Linked DNA regions of Homo sapiens. The protein of the gene in region 3 purifies or fractionates together with the protein of the main gene of each other region. This does not show direct contact. Each region holds a gene or a part of one and is shown on either strand. Other genes may lie near its edges.

What was found.
Region 1: the proteins of ZNF154 (region 3) and QSOX1 purify together in Homo sapiens (affinity purification with mass spectrometry; one large-scale study listed by BioGRID and IntAct). This does not show direct contact.
Region 2: the proteins of ZNF154 (region 3) and SMTNL2 purify together in Homo sapiens (affinity purification with mass spectrometry; one large-scale study listed by BioGRID and IntAct). This does not show direct contact.
Region 4: the proteins of ZNF154 (region 3) and GDA purify together in Homo sapiens (affinity purification with mass spectrometry; one large-scale study listed by BioGRID and IntAct). This does not show direct contact.

The regions. Positions count from the first base shown.
Region 1 is NC_000001.11:180,156,934-180,161,477, reverse strand, and holds part of QSOX1 (sulfhydryl oxidase 1 isoform a precursor), read right to left. Parts: intron 1-4,544. UniProt on the Homo sapiens protein: Catalyzes the oxidation of sulfhydryl groups in peptide and protein thiols to disulfides with the reduction of oxygen to hydrogen peroxide. Plays a role in disulfide bond formation in a variety of extracellular proteins.
Region 2 is NC_000017.11:4,600,594-4,605,137, reverse strand, and holds part of SMTNL2 (smoothelin-like protein 2), read right to left. Parts: intron 1-4,544.
Region 3 is NC_000019.10:57,702,409-57,707,819, forward strand, and holds part of ZNF154 (zinc finger protein 154), read right to left. Parts: exon of another isoform or gene 2,716-5,411; coding exon of another isoform or gene 2,572-2,715; coding exon 2,445-2,571; intron 381-2,444; coding exon 1-380. UniProt on the Homo sapiens protein: May be involved in transcriptional regulation.
Region 4 is NC_000009.12:72,211,005-72,215,548, forward strand, and holds part of GDA (guanine deaminase), read left to right. Parts: intron 1-2,881; coding exon 2,882-2,987; intron 2,988-4,544. UniProt on the Homo sapiens protein: Catalyzes the hydrolytic deamination of guanine, producing xanthine and ammonia.

The DNA.
Region 1 (4,544 bases), on a different chromosome or scaffold from region 3:
AAACACTGGTCATATTACCAAGGTTTTGAGTGTGATGCCATACTTGAGAATATACCTATGATGAATCTATAGGTACTGCAGGTGAAATCTGAAGTTGGGCTTGGGTTGACTTCCTAGCCTTGAGAAGTTGTTAAAAGTCCAATCTGAGATTCCTTATCGATAAGTTCTAGCAAAGCAAACTTAAGAAGAGCCTACGTGGTCAATCACTATTCTTGCCACACTTATGTAAATAATTAGGCCAAGTCTGATGTGACTAAATATTTTCTGCAAGCAAATTAGTCTGAATTTTATTTTATTTATTTTATTTTATTTTATTTTAGATGGAGTCTTGCTCTGTCATCCAGGCTGGAGTGCAGTGGTGCAATCTCGGCTCACTGTGACCTCTGCCTCCCACTTACCCTGATTATCTTTGGTAGAAATGGGGGTGACTATAGAGAGAAAAAATATGTTCCTAAAGAAAAACTATAGTACATCTGTTATTAGATTGTAGCCTTGTTGATCATTTTCAAGTTTTTATCATCTACCTATAAGATGGATTGAATTCTGAATTCTTCCAGTTTCTTCCAATAACTAGCTACAATTCTCCAACTAAGAACAGGAACTGTTCTGTGCCTAAAGCCCTATAAACAGAAGCTGAACAACTTGATATACATTTCAAGGGACAAGTCTCATGCCTGACGTGTACGCTACACAAAGAGTTCACCAAAATGCCCAATGCCATAACCAGAGACAATCAAACTGCAAACCAGGACAAGAAGTTGACAACTTCATGCTTTCCCAAAACTTCTGAACAAGAGTTTCATTGGAATAAGACTTCCACTTTATCCTTGATTACATCTACCTTTTTTTGTCTGGCAGGATAATGCTGTAGTTAGAATTTCACAATCAGTGGCTTCTGTGGGTAACTTCACAAACTGTTGGATTTGTCACGCTAAACCCAGATCTTTACATGACCAAAGGGATCCTTTAGTCTGCCCAGTGGGTAACTTCAGCAACATCCCTAACACAACTGTTGTTCAAACTGTACTAGTGGTCCCTTTTATAGAGTCAGACTTTTAGACCCATGTGTTCTCACTTCCTGCTTTAATTTAACCCAGTCATGGGATACTAGATAATAGAACTGCTACCTACTAGCGAACAGGGAATCTGTGCAATTGCTGACACTTTCTGTTGCACATGGATAGACACATAGTGTATTGAGACTCAGTTGCAAAAAAATGAACAAATAGTACTTGCTTAAAAAGGGTAAATTCCTCATCTGGCTCATTCTTTGATCTCTTCAATTTTAGTTGGTTTGGTTCATGGGTCCCTGGCTAAGCGTCATATTGTAAACTCTTAGTATTATCCTGGGGAGAGTCATTACAGTAGTTTCCCTGTTACACTGTATCCTCTCAAAGAGTCTTAAATATCTATATGCAGCCCTCTGCTGAATGCTAAATGGTCTCTCTCCAGCTGGAATGATAAAACTCCAAGAAACGCATGATAATGAGGACACCTTAACCTATAAATGATGTGTTAAGACCGAAAACCCAAAACGATGATTACTGAGAGTAGTGCTGATGCCCTGTTTTAGTAACTCTCACCTAGGTGAGAACCTGACCAAAAGGGGAGAACTGTTAAATAATATTTCTAGGAGGCCATTGGTTGGGACTGAGCTCCTGCACAAGGCCCAAGAGACCAAACCAAGATGGAGTCCCTCAAGCTGAAGTTCCACGCCACCAAGCCAAAACTAAGCTGTCGATCTGACCTTCCAAGATCAGGAGAGAGTGAGTTAACAGTCAAATCTTCAAACAAGCCAGTTTCAGCCAACATACAGAAGTCTCCTCTGCTTTAACCTTTAAAAGGGACCGAAATAACCAATCAGATTTTTGATCTGTTTCTACTTTCTTCAGCCTTTTTCTGTCTATAAAGCCAAACTCCTCTGCTCAGCTCATCAGAATACTCATTCTGTAAGACAGAATGTGGTGTTGTCCGATTCCAGAATCACAAATAGAAGCCAGTTAAGATTTTTGAATGTGGTGTAATTTTGTCTTTTGACAAGTAACAGGAGATGGAATAGAGAAGGTCCTTATGTGAGTGCTCCATTGTTAAAGCAAAGCTGCATTTAAGCTTTACTGTCAACGCAATGCAGAGCTGGGTGACAGAGGCTTTTTGAAGTGTCAGGTGTCTTAAATGCCTAACACCAAAATGATCAGTAGTATCAGTCTAGCTCTACTACTGGGGAGAAAACCCTTTCCTGGTGCAATTATTGCTCTGAACAGCGTAATTTTTCTACCAACCACAGAATAAATGGACTAATGGAGAGGGGAAGGGTGGCGAGGCAAGAGAAGTTGGACAGCTGTAAATCTTGGATTGATGGGTGAGGGGATGCCCTCTGGTAGGGGGTGTTGTGGGGATTCTGCTGAGCCCCCACTGGGGGCTTGGTCTGGAGTCAAGGGCAGCGTCCCCTGCCCCACTCACAAGTGCAGGGAGGGCACTGGGTGGAGCAGGAAGCCTTGCTTGGAGTTTAACTGGCTGCAGCACCGTGAGCTCCACATGTCTCTCTGGACCTCTGCTTCCTCCTGGATCAGCGAGGGCCAGGATGAATGATCTCTAATGCCCCTTCTAGCTCTGACAACCGTTGAGGTGCTGGATGGCAAACAACTCTTAACAAGAAACATGCAGCCTCCGAGTGTTAAGTGGGTCTGGACTTCCATGAAGACAGAGGCACAGATTTACCCAAACCACCAAGAGCCAGTCAGACCTGGTGGTCTAGTGACTAGAATCTACTGACCCTCAGCTCTGGACTCTACACCGAAGAATTCAGGAGCTCTCCTGACACAGAGAGTTAGTTTATGCCCTGTCCAGCTAGTCAGCACTATGCGGTCACCAACTCATGCCTTCCTTCCTCCTTGCTGACAGTTTCTGGGCAGTGACGTCACTGGATGGACAAAATGCCTTCTCTACCCCTCACACCTGGCTGACACCCCCGGTCTGAGTCAAGAGGATCCACGGCACCAGCAGAAGGTTCTACACTCACGCTGTCATTTGGAATCCTGTGAGGCTCAGGCCACTGGCCACCATGAACGTGCAGTGGGCTCCTACTCTGCACCAGGCTCTGTGCTGGGAATCACAGGTACACATAGCAGATGTGGCCTGTGCCGTGGAAGAGAAGGGGGGCAAAACCAACACTGCTCACTGTCACTCAAACACACGCCTTACGAACCTCACCTCCATAGCTCGGCACATGCTGTTTTTCCACCTGGAGTATCCTTCCTCCTCCACCCACCTCTCTACCTGCCCAGGCTCCAGAAAGCCAAAAAGAGCTGGAGTCAATGACCTTCTCCAGCATCTGTGTAAACCTGGAAAGTTACTTACCTGTTTTAAAAAAAGAGGAAGACAATATCCATAGTACAGATATTTTCCCGGGTAAGGATTGTCATAATAATGGCCTGTGAAGGCCCTTAGCAAAGTGCTGGCATAAGGCAAGCGTGTAATAAATAACTACTGGCATGAAGGCCTCTGGTGATCAGATTAGCCCTCTGTGACTTTCCCCTCCCCTGGGTTCCCATAAGAAATGGCTGAACCACTCCTTTGGCCTTTTTCAAACACAGCTTTGTAACAGTTGCCAATTTTCCTTCTATGAGTAGCTCATTTCCCCAACTGCAATGCAAACAATGCTTATCACTCAACAAATATTTGCTGATTGATTAGCCAGTGAATAGCAATGAAGGTCTAAATTGGATACAACCAGTTTCCAAAACATACAGTGAGACAACCGGAGCTGCTCTGGAATAGAAAGGGGATAAACCAGGTTCTCAGAAACACATGCTCTGCCCCGGGGCAGCAGGTGCCTAGAGAATCTACTGCCCTAGTCACTGAAGAAATGAACCCTATTCAGTCAGATTAAATGCCTGAAGCCAGCCAAATATGGCTGCAAAATTCTTCTCTCTCCCTGTGACCTTCACTCTGTCTCTGTTCCTGCCTCAAGATACAGGTGTCCTCAGCAGAGAGCATGGGCAGTACTCACACAGCCCAGGGTGGGATGAGCACAGCCCTCTGCGGGCCCACAACCAACCTTTCTCAAGAAACCTCAGGACACAGAGATGAAGCGAGACCAACCCTAGCTTCTCAGCAGGGCCTCACCAGGGAACACCCCTTTGGGTTAGAGTGGAGGACATTCTTCATTGCAGGCTGACAGCAGATTCTGCCAGTGCCCTCCCAACACGATCTGGCTCAAGGACTGACTCACACCAATGGCTCACAGGAGACCTCCAGTTTCCACTGAAATCTCCCACCTCCCATTTACCCTGGCTCACCCCCACAGACTTTGATCCTTCCATTTCCTTTTCAGAGGTTAAATTCTGATTTCGCTTTCTTATTTTAGAGAAAGGCTCCATGCACTGGGGAATCCTGTTTGGAAGTGGTAACCCTCATCCAGGAGCAGAATGGGTCAGTATCTAGACATGCAACTCATAGGAAAACTAAAAACTCTGCATTGCAAGAGGCCAAACATGTGAGTCAGCTGGAAGCTAATCTTTCCCCCCAGCACTCTCAAGAAGGAA
Region 2 (4,544 bases), on a different chromosome or scaffold from region 3:
GAGATTATTCTTGTTGCCATTTTGACGATCATGCCTTGCTTTAAGAAGCAGGGTGGATCACAGAGAAGAGGCCTGAATGTGAGATCAAAACAGTAGAGTTCAAACCCCGACTCCTCCCATTGCTTCACTGTTCTGTGCCCATTTCCTTAGCACAAAATCGGAATACTGGCCGGGCACGGTGGCTCACACCTGTAATCCCGGCACTTTAGGAAGCCGAGGCGGGCAGATTGCCTGAGGCCAGGAGTTCCAAACCAGCCTGACCAACATGGTGAAACCCTGTCTCTACTAAAAACACAAAATTAGCCAGGCATGGTGGTGCACGCCTGAAATCCCAGCTACTTGGGAGACTGAGGCTGGAGAATCGCTTGAACCCAGGAGGTGGAGGTTGCAGTGAGCCGAGATCGTGCTACTGCACTCCAGCCTGCTGACAGAGCGAGACTCTGTCTCAAAAAAAAAGAAAAAAATCAGAATACCACCTCTGCTGTCCCTCCCAGTGGGCCTGTTGTGAGGCTGTGATTCCACAATGTGTCTTTATGCATCTTGTTCCCCAGAGAGCCCAGCCAGAGGGGAGACCCCAGCGAGCGAGCAAGACTCCTCTGACCCATCCCAGTTTGGCACGACGCACTCAGCACTTTCTACCAGGACTCACGCGGCTGTGTGCTCCAGAGACAAGACTGTAACATTACCCGCAGGCCCTGCTCTGCTGTGCTGGCTGGACGCCAGGCCTCCTACCAGAAACCAAATGTCAAGGCGAAATGGAGGCATCTGTCCTGGATCCCCTCCCCACCTCCTGCTTGGAGTTGTAGCGGGTGGCCTGTAAGTGAATCCAACAGGCTTTGTGGGGTGATGAGTGGGTTTGGCCCAATGAGCGGGCACCCTTTCTCCCTGGGACAGGCCAGGGCAGGGCTCGATGTCAGGGAAGCTGGCCCTCTGATGCGAGCAGGCGTGCAAAGGTGCTTTGTCGATGATAAAGCATTGAAAAATCTGAGTTCAGGCCGGGCGCGGTGGCTCATGCCTGTCATCCCAACATTTTAAGAGGCTGAGGTGGGCAGATCATTTGAGGTCAGGAGTTGGAGACCATCCTGGCTAACATGGTGAAACCCCGTCTCTACTAAAAATACAAAAATTAGCTGGGTGTGGTGGCGTATGCCTGCAGTCCCAGCTACTCGGGAGGCTGAGGCAGGAGAATCACTTGAACTCGGGAGGCGGAGGTTGCAGTGAGCCAAGATCATGCCACTGCACTCCAGCCTGGGCGACAGAGTGAGACTCTATCTCAAGGGGAAAAAAAAGGAAAGAAAAGAAAATCTGAGTTCAGAGAGGCTGGGGACCTGAGTTCACCTTCCTGAGCGATCATTTCATATCTGGTGCCCTCCTTTCCACCTGCCACACAGCTGGGGCACCTCCACTCCCACACCTGCTATTTGGAGGATCCCAGGTGTGTAGAAACAGGCTCCACACATGCTCTGGTTATCAGCACTGACGGCGGTGGCCTCAGTGGTGCCACATGTTAAGTAGGGACAGCATGAGGACTCTAGGACCTCCAACCATCCAAACACCCCCGTCAGAAGCACCAATCACCTCTATAAAGGCCCTGCCTCAGCTTGTTCATCTCAGGGTCCAGGGAAAGGGGACCCAATTTCCTCCAAGGACAGCTCAGAACCCTCTGCAGATGCTCTGACCACGAGAAAGTTCTTCTAACATTTCTTACGCTATTTGTGCCTGTGTGTACTTTCTACCTGCTGACCCCATAAGGCTACTTATTCTCAGTCTGATTTTTCCCCCATGTCAGAACCCTTCACACGCCAGAAGAAAACCTTCCTTCCATGTCTTTCTCTGAACTAAACAGCTCTGGTTCCTTAACTGTTCCCACAAAGGATACCCAGGACCCACCTCTCCGAACCAGGTCTTGCCACTCCCTAACCCACTTCATAGGAGGCCCTCAGAATTGCCGGCATTTTCCGGGTGTTGTCCAGCCTCTGCAGAAGACAGCAAGCTGACCCCTCCTCATTCTAGAGGCTGCGTTTACCCTCTGATAATGACCCCTGGTGGGCCCCTGCCCTGGTGGCAAGTCTTCAAGTCCAGGGTGGCAGTCAGGATGGGAGTGGATGCCATGCCCTGTGTCATCCTCCGCTGTCCAGATCGCCGGCTTCCCCAGCAGGCAACCAGGGCACTGGGCCATGATCCATATGGTCCCCACTGTTGTTATTTCTAAGTTGAGTACATGAGAGTGTAGGGGTTCCTAGGGGAGCAGGGAGGGGTCACAATATGCAACACGCAACCACCGTCTCCTGGCTCCCTCTTTTCTTCACCTGCCACCTTTGCTCTTCACCCACTTCTTTTCCTGGGGAGCTCCAAATTCCGCCTCCCACAGGCAGAGAGCATTCTCTGTCTTTGAAGCACAGCTCACAGCAGACCTTCAAGGGCACCCACCTTCCACGGATCACCTGAGGTCAGGAGTTCGTGACCAGCCTGGGCAACATGGCAAAACCCCGTCTCTACTAAAAATACAAAAATTAGCTAGGTGCCGTGGCTCAAGCCTGTAATCCCAGCACTTTGGGAGGCTGAGGCGAGAGGATCACCTGAGGTCAGGAGTTCAAGACCAGCCTGGCCAACATGGTGAAACCCCATCTCTACTAGAAATACAAAAATTAGCTGGGCATGGTGGCGCATGCCTGTAATCCCAGCTACTCGGGAGGCTGAGGCAGGAGAATCGCTTGAATCCAGGAGGTGGAAGTTGCAGTGAGCTGAGATTATTCCACTGCACTCCAGCCTGGGCAACAAGAACGAAACTCCATCTCAAAAAAAAAAAAAAAAAAAAAAAAAAAAGCACCTGCCTTCCACCCCAGATTGTCCCTGCAAAGGGAGCACTCTCCCTCAGAGACATGGTGCCAGCTTCAATGGCACAGGTTCATCATACCGAATCCAAAATGCGCCAATGAGCATTTCCTTTCAGCATTGTGTCTGGCACTCAAAAAGTTTCAGATTTTTGAGCCTTTGGATTTTTTAAATTTGGGATGCTCAACCGGTAAGTATTATATAATGCAAATATTCCAAAATCTAAAATCCAAAACACTTCTGGTCCCAGGCCATTTTGGATAAGGGATATTTGACCTATGATGGCAAGATTCCTGGAAGCTGCAGACATAGGCTGGACAAAACTCGGGAGACAGCAGAAAAAGAAAGTGATGATCAGCATTGACATTTATAAAAAATGTTTGAGTCTCCAAATATTAGAGGTCCCAATTGCCTTTTAAATTAAAAAAAAAACAACAACTGCTTTTGTAAAAATGATACAGGTTTGTTTTAATGATTCAAACAGGCCAAGTGCGGTGGTTCATGCCTGTAATCCCAGCACTTTGGGAGGCTGAGACGGGAGGATCACTTGAGGCCAGGAGTTTGAGACCAGCCTGGCCAACATAGTTAGACCCCGTCTCTAAAAAAAAAAAAATAGCCAAGTGTGGGGGTGTGTGCCTGTAGTCCCAGCTACTTGGGAGGCCGAGGCAGGAGGATCACTTGAGCTTGGGAGTCTGAGGCTACAGTGAGCTGTGATTGCACCACTGTATTCCAGCCTGGGAGACAAAGTGTGATCTTGTGTCAATCAATCAATCAATCAATCAATCAATCATTCAAACAGAAAGTTCAAAGGAGAAAGTAAAAATCACTTTAAATGCCATTCCATAGCAAGAACCAGAGTTAACATGGGCTGACTACATTTTTTTTTTTGAGATGAGGTCTCACTCTGTTGCCCAGGCTGGAGTGCAGTGGCACCATCTGGGTTCACTGCAATCTCTGCCATCCGGGCTCAAACGATCCTCCCACTTCAGCCTCCCAAGTAGCTGGGACCACAGGTGTGCACCACCACACCAAGATAATTTTTTGTATTTTCTGTAAAGGTGAGGTCTTGCCACGTTGCCCAACCTGGTCTCAAACTCCTAAGCTCAAGCAATCCACCTGCCTTGGCCTCCCAAAGTCCTGGGATTGGATCGCAGGCATGAGCCACTGTGCGCGGCCAATCCCGACGACCATTTTTAAAGTGTCTTTGCTTACGCCCCGCATCAGTGGGGTGGGGAAAAGGCTGAAAGGGTTTTCTCCTACTCCTGTCTATTGTGAGCTTCAGCTACCACAGGGCTGTCCTGTAAGGGAGCTGGAGGATGGGCTTGGGGGTTATTTTTATTTTTTTAAGCCTGCTCTAAATGCAGACCAGGATGCCAGGACTGGGACTACTGCCTCCTATCTGGTTTTAGACAGAGACACATGGGCACTACAAATAGCCTGGAAGGCCCTTCTGCTCCAGCGTAACCCGAGAGCAGGACACATTCCCCGCAGGGCAAGCGGGAAGCCTGGGGCTGCACGTCCTGCACTGGGCCTCTGCAGAGGTGGAAAGGACGGGTGCAGAAGGGTCAGGCGCCCGCCCGACTCAGCCCCTTCCATAAAAGGGGCCGGTCCTCCCTCGTTCCAGACCCTGAACACCTGTCAGGCAAGGGAAGCTCGCTGTGCTGTCAACACTGCATCATTCACACAGATTAGGCCACCGGGAATCTCTG
Region 3 (5,411 bases):
CCAATGGTCATTGAGACTGTAGCTTTTGCTAAAGGATTTCCCACATTCACTGCATATGTAACATCTTTCTGTAGTGAGGGTTCTCTGCTGCTGAACAAGTGTGTGTTTACCGCTGAATGCTTTTGTGTGTTCTCCACAGTTGTAATGAGTTTTTCCTCTGTGACTGATGGCCCCACCGTCGCTTTTGCTATTTGATTGCTCCCCAGTGTGAGCAGCCTGTTGATGGAGAAATCCCAACTTGGCCAGGAAGTCCTTCCCAACTTCTCTGCAGGTGGAAGGCTCCCCTGACACATGGAATGTGCAGGTCTTCACAAACAAGGCTCTGCCCACATTGCTTCTGAAATGTTTTTCTCCAAGGTGCTGCTTCTGATGATGAACATCTGCAATGAAATACAATTATTTCCCACATGCCCCACCTCTATATAATTTCTGCCTATGATGTGTCCCCTAGGGCCCAGCCAAGAGCAAAATGTCTCTCAAGACCAGGCTACACGTCTCACAGTGGTGGGCCTTCTAGGGAGAAAGATCTGCCTTAGAAGTCCTGAGTTGGGTCACTCCTTCTAAAGAAATGCTCTTGTCAGAAGGTGCCTCCTCATCCACCACTCTATGCCAAAAACCTAAAAGCAAGAAATGCTAGTGAAGTGCACATTAACTATGGTGGGAGGGGGCAGCCCTTATACAAGTGTGTGTATGACAAACCCAGGAACAAGTCCATGGGATCGTTTGCATGACAGTAGAGTTGGGTTCAGTTGCAGATGAGGCTGTTTAGCAATTCTAGGATAAAGATTACAAGAATGGGCCGGGTGCGGTGGCTCACATCTGTAATCCCAGCACTTTGGGAGTCCAAGGTGGGTGGATCACAAAGTCAGGAGTTTGAGACCAGCCTGGCCAATATGGTGAAACCCCGTCTCTACTAAAAATACAAAAATTAGCTGGACATGGTGGTGGGTGCCTGTAGTCCCAGGACTCAGGAGGCTGAGGCAGGAGAATCACTTGAACCCGGGAGGCGGAGGTTGCAGCGAGCCAAGATTGCACCACTGTACTCCAGCCTGGGTGACAGAAGGAGACTCCGTCTCAAAAAAAAAAAAAAAAAAAAAAAAGATTACAGGAATGTGGGAGATCTCAAGAGGTAAAGGCCACAACCATGAGGTATCACAAAGAGAGAGGCAGGGTCTAAAACTAAATCCTCTGCAAACAACTTTAGCAGAAGCTTATCTGCTGGCGACACATGAGTGCTATGTAGAATAGTATATGCAAGCCCATGGAAATACGACTGCAATGCAGCAGCTGGCCTTCAAGGACTGTTTAAGAGTATGTGCAAGGACAGGCGCAGTGGCTCACACCTGTAATCCCAGCACTTTGGGAGGCCAAGGTGGGTGGATCACAAGGTCAGGAGTTCAAGACCAGCCTGGTCAAGATGGTGAAACCCCATCTCTAAAAAAATACAAAAATGAGCCAGGTGCAGTGGCATGCGCCTGTAATCACAGCTACTCAGGAGGCTGAGGCAGGAGAATTACTTGAACCTGGGAGGCAGAGGTTGCAGTAAGCCGAGATCATGCCACTGCACTCCAGCCTGGGTGACAGAGTGAGACTCCGTCTCAAAAAAAAAGAGTATGTGCATACCTCATGACACACTATATAGAGGCTAACGTTAGAAAGAACTGCAGGTGTAGCAGTGAGAAAAACAGATAAGATACGGAGTCCAGAGATGTGAGGATTAGCCCCAGGCTGGATGTTAAGAGCAGAAGTGACAAGTAGTAGAGCTGACTTGTCAGCAAAATGTCAAGAATGGTGAAGGGAAACCGGAAGTGAGCTGTGACCACTGGCATTGGCACCAAAATGCTCGCCAAACAGAACAGGTTGCTGCTCTGATACAGCATCTGGATAATGTAAGTACTAAGGGAAGAAAGAACAGAAGAGCAGCCTGCACTGTCCCACAAAAAACTCAGCACATGACAGCCCACAGGAAAAACACACACACACACAAATACTACAAAGAAAATTTCAGAGGAATACTTTGTAAGAAGAGTCCATGGTCTACATAAGTAGTGACCATGTCAGTGACAATAACTCCTGGCATAGGCAGGCATAATGAAATGCCAGCTCGGGATGGAAGTAGTAGCTGGGGCACACAGGATCCTCAAATCTGGAAAAAGTCACCCAGACATGGAGGGGACAATCAAGGTGGGATCCACTAGGGTGACTGCAAGACTGCAGACTCTGAATCCTTCCCTGTGAGGCTGTGAGGAAACAGGTACTGGGGCTCCTCAAGGAGAGGAGAAGACAGTATGCACACCTTAGTCTTACCAATGACAGAACTATGCAGGGAACTGAGAAAGAAGCAGAGCCCATAGTCTTGTCATGAGAAGGACAGACCTGCCTATAGAGAAAAGAGGAAGGGCACAGACTAGCTCAGGGCACAGGAAAGGGTAAAAGAACCTTACCTAGAGAGGTTAAAAGAGCCAAGTTCTCCAGCATCACATCACGGTACAGGCATCTTTGAGCCTCATCAAGGAGACCCCATTCCTCCCAGGAGAAGTGTACGGCCACATCTTCAAAGGTCACAGTGCCCTGCCACAATGGGAACAGATGAAACCACCAAGAGCCCCTATCCCAAGGACCCACAATGCATACCCCCACATCTTTACCCCATGCCCATTCTCTTCCCAAGCTCCCCAACTGAGAGGAGAAACCAGCACATGGATAAATAGGCATCTAAGCTGGGGGCCTGGCATGGAAGGATCCATACTATCCCATCATGAAATCCCCCTGAAATGTCCAAGGTCATCTAAGTCTCAATACCAGGGCCCTGCAGCTGTCACTTACTCCCTTTCCAGATGCACATCATTCTTCAGAATACACATCCCTCCTATCTCCAGACACCACAGCCCCAAGCCCAGGGCTGCCACCTCACTGCCCACACCATAGGCATCTCCCTGCTCTTACCTCCCATGTCACTGTTTTAATCTCTTCCTCTTTACCCCATTAGCGAAGGCAGGATTGCCACACTAGGGTTATGGATATGGACAAACACACAATACCTGACACTAGAAAGACGATACAGCAGTTGGGTATGGTGGCTCATGCCTGTAATCCCAGCACTTTGGGAGGCCAAGACGGGTGGATCACGAGGTCAGGAGTTCAAGACCAGCCTGACCAATATGGCGAAACCCCATCTCTACTAAAAATACAAAAATTAGCCGGGCGTGGTGAAGCACACCTGTAATCCCAGCTACTCAGGAGGCTGAGGCAGGAGAATTGCTTGAACCCAGGAGGCGGAGGTTGCAGTGAGCCAAGATTGCGAAACTGCACTCCAGTCTGGGCGACAGAGCGAGACTCCGTCTCAAAAAAAAAAAAAAAAGAAAGATGATATAGCAGTTTATTAATCATATGTACATAGAACCTGGGAGATGAGGACAACATGTACCACACAGGGTCACATGGGGGTCTAGTCCAGAAAAAAAGTGAATAACCAAAAACTGTGGGATGCAAGCACTTTGAGAACAAAAGGATCAACTGCCCCCTGGTTCCCACAATGGGCTTGTTTGGAAAACTCCATGACCTGGTAGGGAGCTGAAATCTGCTACAAAGTGATAGGCAGAAATTGTGCCTGGTCTCCTTGATTAAAAGGGTTGTCTGTTTGGGAGAAGAGTAGGGAGGGAAACTTGTACTCAGGCCATTTGATGCCACCCTGATTTCACCAGATGTCATACTGGGCCTTAATTTTAGACTTTACACCATAACTTAGCACACAGCGTCCAGAGTATGCTCGACAGATTCAAACGGATCTAATACTACCCTAGATCTCCCAGGGCATCCACTAGTGGTAGCAGCCCCAAATCCTATGAGGGCTCCCTGGCTGGCTCCATTCTTTGCCTCAGATTTAGGCCACACAGAACCACATGTGCATCTCAGATACCCATGGCCCTATTCCACTTCCGTGCTGCACTTGCTAGCCCCTCAGCAGTAACAACCTTCCTCTGTCCACTTAACACTCAAAGACTAGCTCCACTGATCACCTACCCCAGGCCAAGTGACTGTCACAGATGACCACATTGGCACCTGGCCTTATCCTCCAGGTTGAATAAACACCCTAGGCCCCATCAAAGTCATCAAAAAATCCTGGTGATTCCACAGAGTGCTGAATAAGCACAAAGGAAAAAAAGGACAGCCATTTGCCTCAAATACACCTATGCCTCTGCATCCACCTTATATCCACTCTTCCCTTGAAAGTGTATGCCACCTGCCCAACTATCCTCTCCAAACACCCTACCTCCATAGCCACTAACCTCCCTTACCTCTGTTTAGAAAGCCCAAGAATATCACCCACTTATCCAACCAAAAGGCTTGGTCCTTAGCCCCCATTCTGCCCTTCCTGGCCAAATAACCTGTACCACCATGCCTAAAGATTAACCCTTGTAGGCCGGATGCGGTGGCTTACGCCTGTAATCCCAGAACTCTGGGTGGCTGAGGCGGGTGGATCACCTGAGGTTGGGAGTTCAAGACTAGCCTGACCAACATGGAGAAACCCTGTCTCTACTAAATAAATACAAAATTAGCCGGGCGTGGTGGCGCATGCCTGTAATCCCAGCTACTCGGGAGGCTGAGGCAGGAGAATTGCTTGAAGCCGGGAGGCGGAGGTTGTGGTGAGCCAAGCTCGCGCCATTGCACTCTGGCCTGGGCAACAAGAGAGACACTCCATCTCAAAAAAAAAAAAAAAAAATAGAACAACCCTTCTAAATGTAATCCACAGCTCACTCACCTTAGTCCACACAATGACCACCACATTTTGGATGTCTCCATTCTGAAGCACTCCCCAGATTTCCAGACCTGGGTGTTCAGCCACCTACTTAATGCCTACTTAATGTCTCTGAAACATCTCAAACTCTTACATGACCAAATAAAGCTCCTGTTGTCTCCAGTGAATATTACTGTTAATACCAACTTCTCCATCTCAGTTGAAGAACCATGGGGTCATCGCTGAATCCTGTTTCACTCCCTCGCTGTCTACATCAGAAAATTTAGTTGCTCCCTTTAAAAATTTGCATCCAGAATGCAACACATCTCCTAATCAATGACTCTGGTCCATTACCCTGGACTGGCTGTAGCTTCCACTCTGATCTTCTTTCCTCTTCCCTCAACCCCACAGTCTGCTCTCCACGCTAACGGGATGGACCCTGTTAGGACTTTGGTAAGATCACCTCCCTCTTGTAACCCAAATCTCTCATTACCTCCAGAATAGGTACCCAACTTCTCAGGCAGCCACTGCAGTCCTGACTCCTTCCCCCTGCTCTTTGTTCCCAGCTAAAAGGAAACAGATCTATGGTTTCCTCAAAAATCTCAGCTTAGTTTTACTAAGCACTTGCGCCTCCTGATACCAGTGCCAGAGATAACCTTTCACAAGTTTCCAC
Region 4 (4,544 bases), on a different chromosome or scaffold from region 3:
TACTCTGATTATTTACTTACAATTTTTGGTTACAGAATGATATATATGAGTCTGAATTTTGTGTATTAATTTAGGGCTTTTTAGGGAAACTTTACTAATTCTAGTTGTGGTAATAGTTTCTTATATCAGCAGATACATGGTGGCTATTGGCTAGAGTCAGGGCACTGTGCTAGATGCTGGAAACGCAATGAGATAAAAAATAGTCTCTGCCCTTGAGAAGCCAGACAGAATACCTACACCATTGATCACTAACCTTAGTAACAACTATGGTGCTGTTACTAGACGTCTAGCATTGTGCAAAGCACTCTGGAAGAATTAGTTCAGCAGCAAACAGCCTTCTGAAGTGGTTACTGATGTCCTCATGTTACAGATGGTTAGACTGACGCTCAGAGAGGATAAGTAACATGCCCAGGGTTGCACAGCTAGTAAGAAGAGCTGATTCTGGATTCGGGTTGATGATTCCAAAACTTGTACCCAGCACAGTACCTGGCACATAGCAGGTGCTCAGTAAATACTGTTGGCTGATACACTGATGCCACTGTTTGCTTATGCAAAAGACCTGACCTAATGGGTGACTCTGAAAATAGATACTACAGTCTTCAGAGAAGGCAAAGAGAACCCAGAACTACGACATCTGGGAAGGCTTTATGAAAGGGTCCTTTAAACTGGGCTTTGAAGTAAAGACAAGATGAGGAGAGGACAAACTGTCTTCTAGATAGGGGAAGGACACAGGTATGGGAACAGGAGTGTCAATAGTGGATGCAGGGACCACAGTAGTTTAACTAGAGGAGTGGATTCATCGCCTGGGGGCAGTGGGAGAAGAGGGTAGGCAGATGGGAGGGTTCACATTGTAGAAGAGCTCAAATATGCACCAAAGACTCAAAAAAGGTTCTGAGTCCAGGTGTGAGTGATGTGATGAAAGTGGTATTTTAAGGAAGATTAATCTAATGGCCAGTTATCTAAATGAATTACAGGGGAAGGAGAGAGGCAGAAAGGTTTTTAAAAATCTCTTATGACAGAGATGGAGACACTGTAAAAACAATTACCATTGTCCCATATAGCCTCAGCTTTCTTGCTGAAATAGAATTCTTCCAGCACCTTTGATGAGGACTAGGTTCTAGTGCTGAGAGCTGCTAGTAAGACTGCGTAAAATTCCTCACAGATAATATTGGCATTGTTTCAGTTAAGAATAGTATGGCCAGGCGCGGTGGTTAATGCCTGTAATCCTGGCACTTTCGGAGGCCGAGGCGGGCGGATCATGAGGTCGGGAGATTGAGACCATCCTGGCTAACATGGTGAAACCCTGTCTCTACTAAAAATACAAAAAATTAACCAAGCGTAGTGGTGGGCGCCTGTAGTCCCAGCTACTCAGGAGGCTGAGGCAGGAGAATGACGTGAACCCAGGAGGCAGAGCTTTCAGTGAGCTGAGATTGTGCCACTGCACTCCAGCCTGGGCGACAGAGTGAGACGCCACCTTAAAAAAAAAAAAGAATAGTAGCAGTATGTTGCCTAGATAACCACATGCCTGACACCTTATATATATTATTGCATGTATTCCTCACAACCCTACACATAGCAGAGAACACTGTACATATATAGGTTTAGACCTTAACCAAATAATATCCACCACCTGGAGTAATCAGAGGAATAAGGAATCAGTCCAAATCTTTCCAATTCCAGTGCTCATGTTCTTATCCCTCAGCCATTCTGTGTTTTGTCTAGAAGAGGACCATGATAGAGAGAGGGAGAGAGAGAGATCCAAGGGATGGTGGTAGAGTAGGAGACAGGAGGGAGATTGTAAGTTGGGGTAGAAGAAGCTGAGTGTAGGTATGCCAATGACTAAGAGAGTCTTTCTTTAGGACCTGAGACTGTTTGCTCCTTTACCATGTGATAAAATGAGAGCAAAGATAGTTACATATTTAATGAAAATATAGACACACTGGATAAGCAAAGGGAAAAACTGAATAATAACTTAAAAACACCCAGCCAAGCACAGTGGCTCACGCCTGCAATCCCAGCACTTTGGGAGGCCCAGGCAGGCAGATCACAAGGTCAGGAGATCGAACCATCCTGGCCAACATGGTGAAACACTGTCTCTACTAAAAATACAAAAATTAGCTGGGCACAGTGGTGCGTGCCTGTAATCCAAGCTACTCAGGAGGCTGAAGCAGGAGAATCACTTGAACCAGGGAGTTGGAGGTTGCAGTGAGCCCAGATCACGCCACTGCACTCCAGGCTGGTGACAGAGTGAGACTCCGTCTCAAAAACAAAACAAACAAACAAACAAAAAAACCAAAAAACCCACCTGACAGCCTGAGAATGGGGATGGGGGAGGTAGTGGGTTAAAGTGATGAATAGAAAAACTTTTACTGTTTACTGAATATAGTAGGGAATTTGTGGTGGTTCTTGTTCTTAAGTGGTGTGATGGTGGATGATCTTTTACATTTTCATTTATGTTTTCCATATATGATTTTAATTTAAAAATTACTGTTGAAAGCTTAGAAAAAGTACTGTTTTGGCCGGGCGCGGTGGCTCACGCCTGTAATCCCAGCACTTTGGGAGGCCGAGGCGGGCGGATCACAAGGTCAGGAGATCGAGACCATCTTGGCTAACACGGTGAAACCCCGTCTCTACTAAAAATACAAAAAATTAGCCGGGCGCGGTGGCGGGCGCCTGTAGTCCCAGCTACTCGGGAGGCTGAGGCAGGAGAATGGCATGAACCTGGGAGGCGGAGCTTGCAGTGAGCCGAGATTGCGCCACTGCAATCTGGCCTGGGCTAAACAGCGGGACTCCGTCTCAAAAAAAAAAAAAAAAAGAAAAAGAAAAAGTACTGTTTCAGAAACAAACATGCCTTCATATTCTTTTTGTGTATACTTTACAGATAAATTTGGACAGCGGGCATTTGTGGGCAAAGTTTGCATGGATTTGAATGACACTTTTCCAGAATACAAGGAGACCACTGAGGAATCGATCAAGGAAACTGAGAGGTAAAAGGCCCATTTGTCTTGATTTGTCTTACAGGTGAATTCCTGTGCTGCACTGATGGAGTTAGAGATGGAAAAAGGAAACAGGATACTGTTATCACCCAGTTGGGATGTGCACATAGTGACTCAGAATGTTCTGTTTAATGCAATGGGTCGGTTAGTCTACAGTGAATTTGATCAAACACTCGATAATCATTAATGATTTACAAAGAGCTTTCCTTTGTAGTGCCACACTTGATCCTCATAGAAATCTCCATGAAGCATCTGTCTTTTTATTTATTTTTTATTTATTTTTATTTTTTTTTTTTGAGACGGAGTCTCACTCTGTCATCCAGGCTGGAGTGCAATGGCGTGGTCTCAGCTCACTGCAACCTTCAGCTCACTGCAACCTCTGCCTCCTGGGTTCAAGCGATTCTTCCACCTCAGCCTCCTGAGTAGCTGGGACTATAGGTGCATGCCACCACACTCAGCTAATTTTTGTATTTTTAGTAGAGACGGGGTTTCACTATGTTGGCTGGGCTGGTCTCGAACTCCTGACCTCGTGATCTGCCCGCCTCGGCCTCCCAAAGTGCTGAGATTACAGGCGTGAGCCACCACGCCCAGCCCACATCTGTCTTTTATGATAAGGAAGCTGAGTCTGACATAGGCTAAGAGGCTTGCTCACAGTCATACAGCTTTTAAGTAGTGGAGCCAGAATTCAAAACCAGGGTCTATGACTCTAAATTCAAAGTTCTTTTTTTTTTTTCTTTTCTTTTCTTTTTTTGAGACAGACTGTCACTCTGTCACCCAGGCTGGAGTGCAATGGCGCGATCTCAGCTCACTGAAACCTCCACCTCCTGTGTTCAAGAGATTCTCCTGCCTCAGCCTCCCGAGTAGCTGGGATTACAGGCACGTGCCACCACACCCAGCTAATTTTTGTATTTTTAGTAGAGACGTGGTTTCACCAGGTTGGCCAGGCTGGTCTTGAACTCCTGACCTCAGGTGATCCACCTGCCTTGGCCACCCAAAGCACTGGGATTACAGGCATGAGCCACTGTGCCCGGCTCAAAGTTCTTTCTCTCATGATATAGATCACACCTCATATTCAATGTAAGTAAAGAGAATAAAAGAGAGAGAAACAGAGGGTATGCAAGAATACTTGCTATGGCATGTGTTAATTTAAAAATGATGATGGAAGTGAATAATTATTTGTGAAATAAAATAGTATACAAGAAGTTAGGAAAAATGAGTTATAGTTACAGGTTAATGAAAGACTTTCACTACAAAAGGATTTTTTTAAAAGATACCAAAGTAATATGTGTTTCCATGGTCCAGAACTTAGAGAAACACAAAAAGGTATAAAGAAGAATTTTTTTTTGTAATGAAACCACCAAAAGTTACCATAATAGGGTATCTTTTATTGTTTTCTCAAGGTGGTATATGCATCCTTCACTACTATTTCGTCCTACCTTGGGAACAGGAAAGTTGTTCTGGATGTATGCTGTAATGGCCATAACAGGCTAATATAGGGATCTAGAATATCCCCTCTCCACAAAGGTGACCTGAAAGAACATCTCTGCA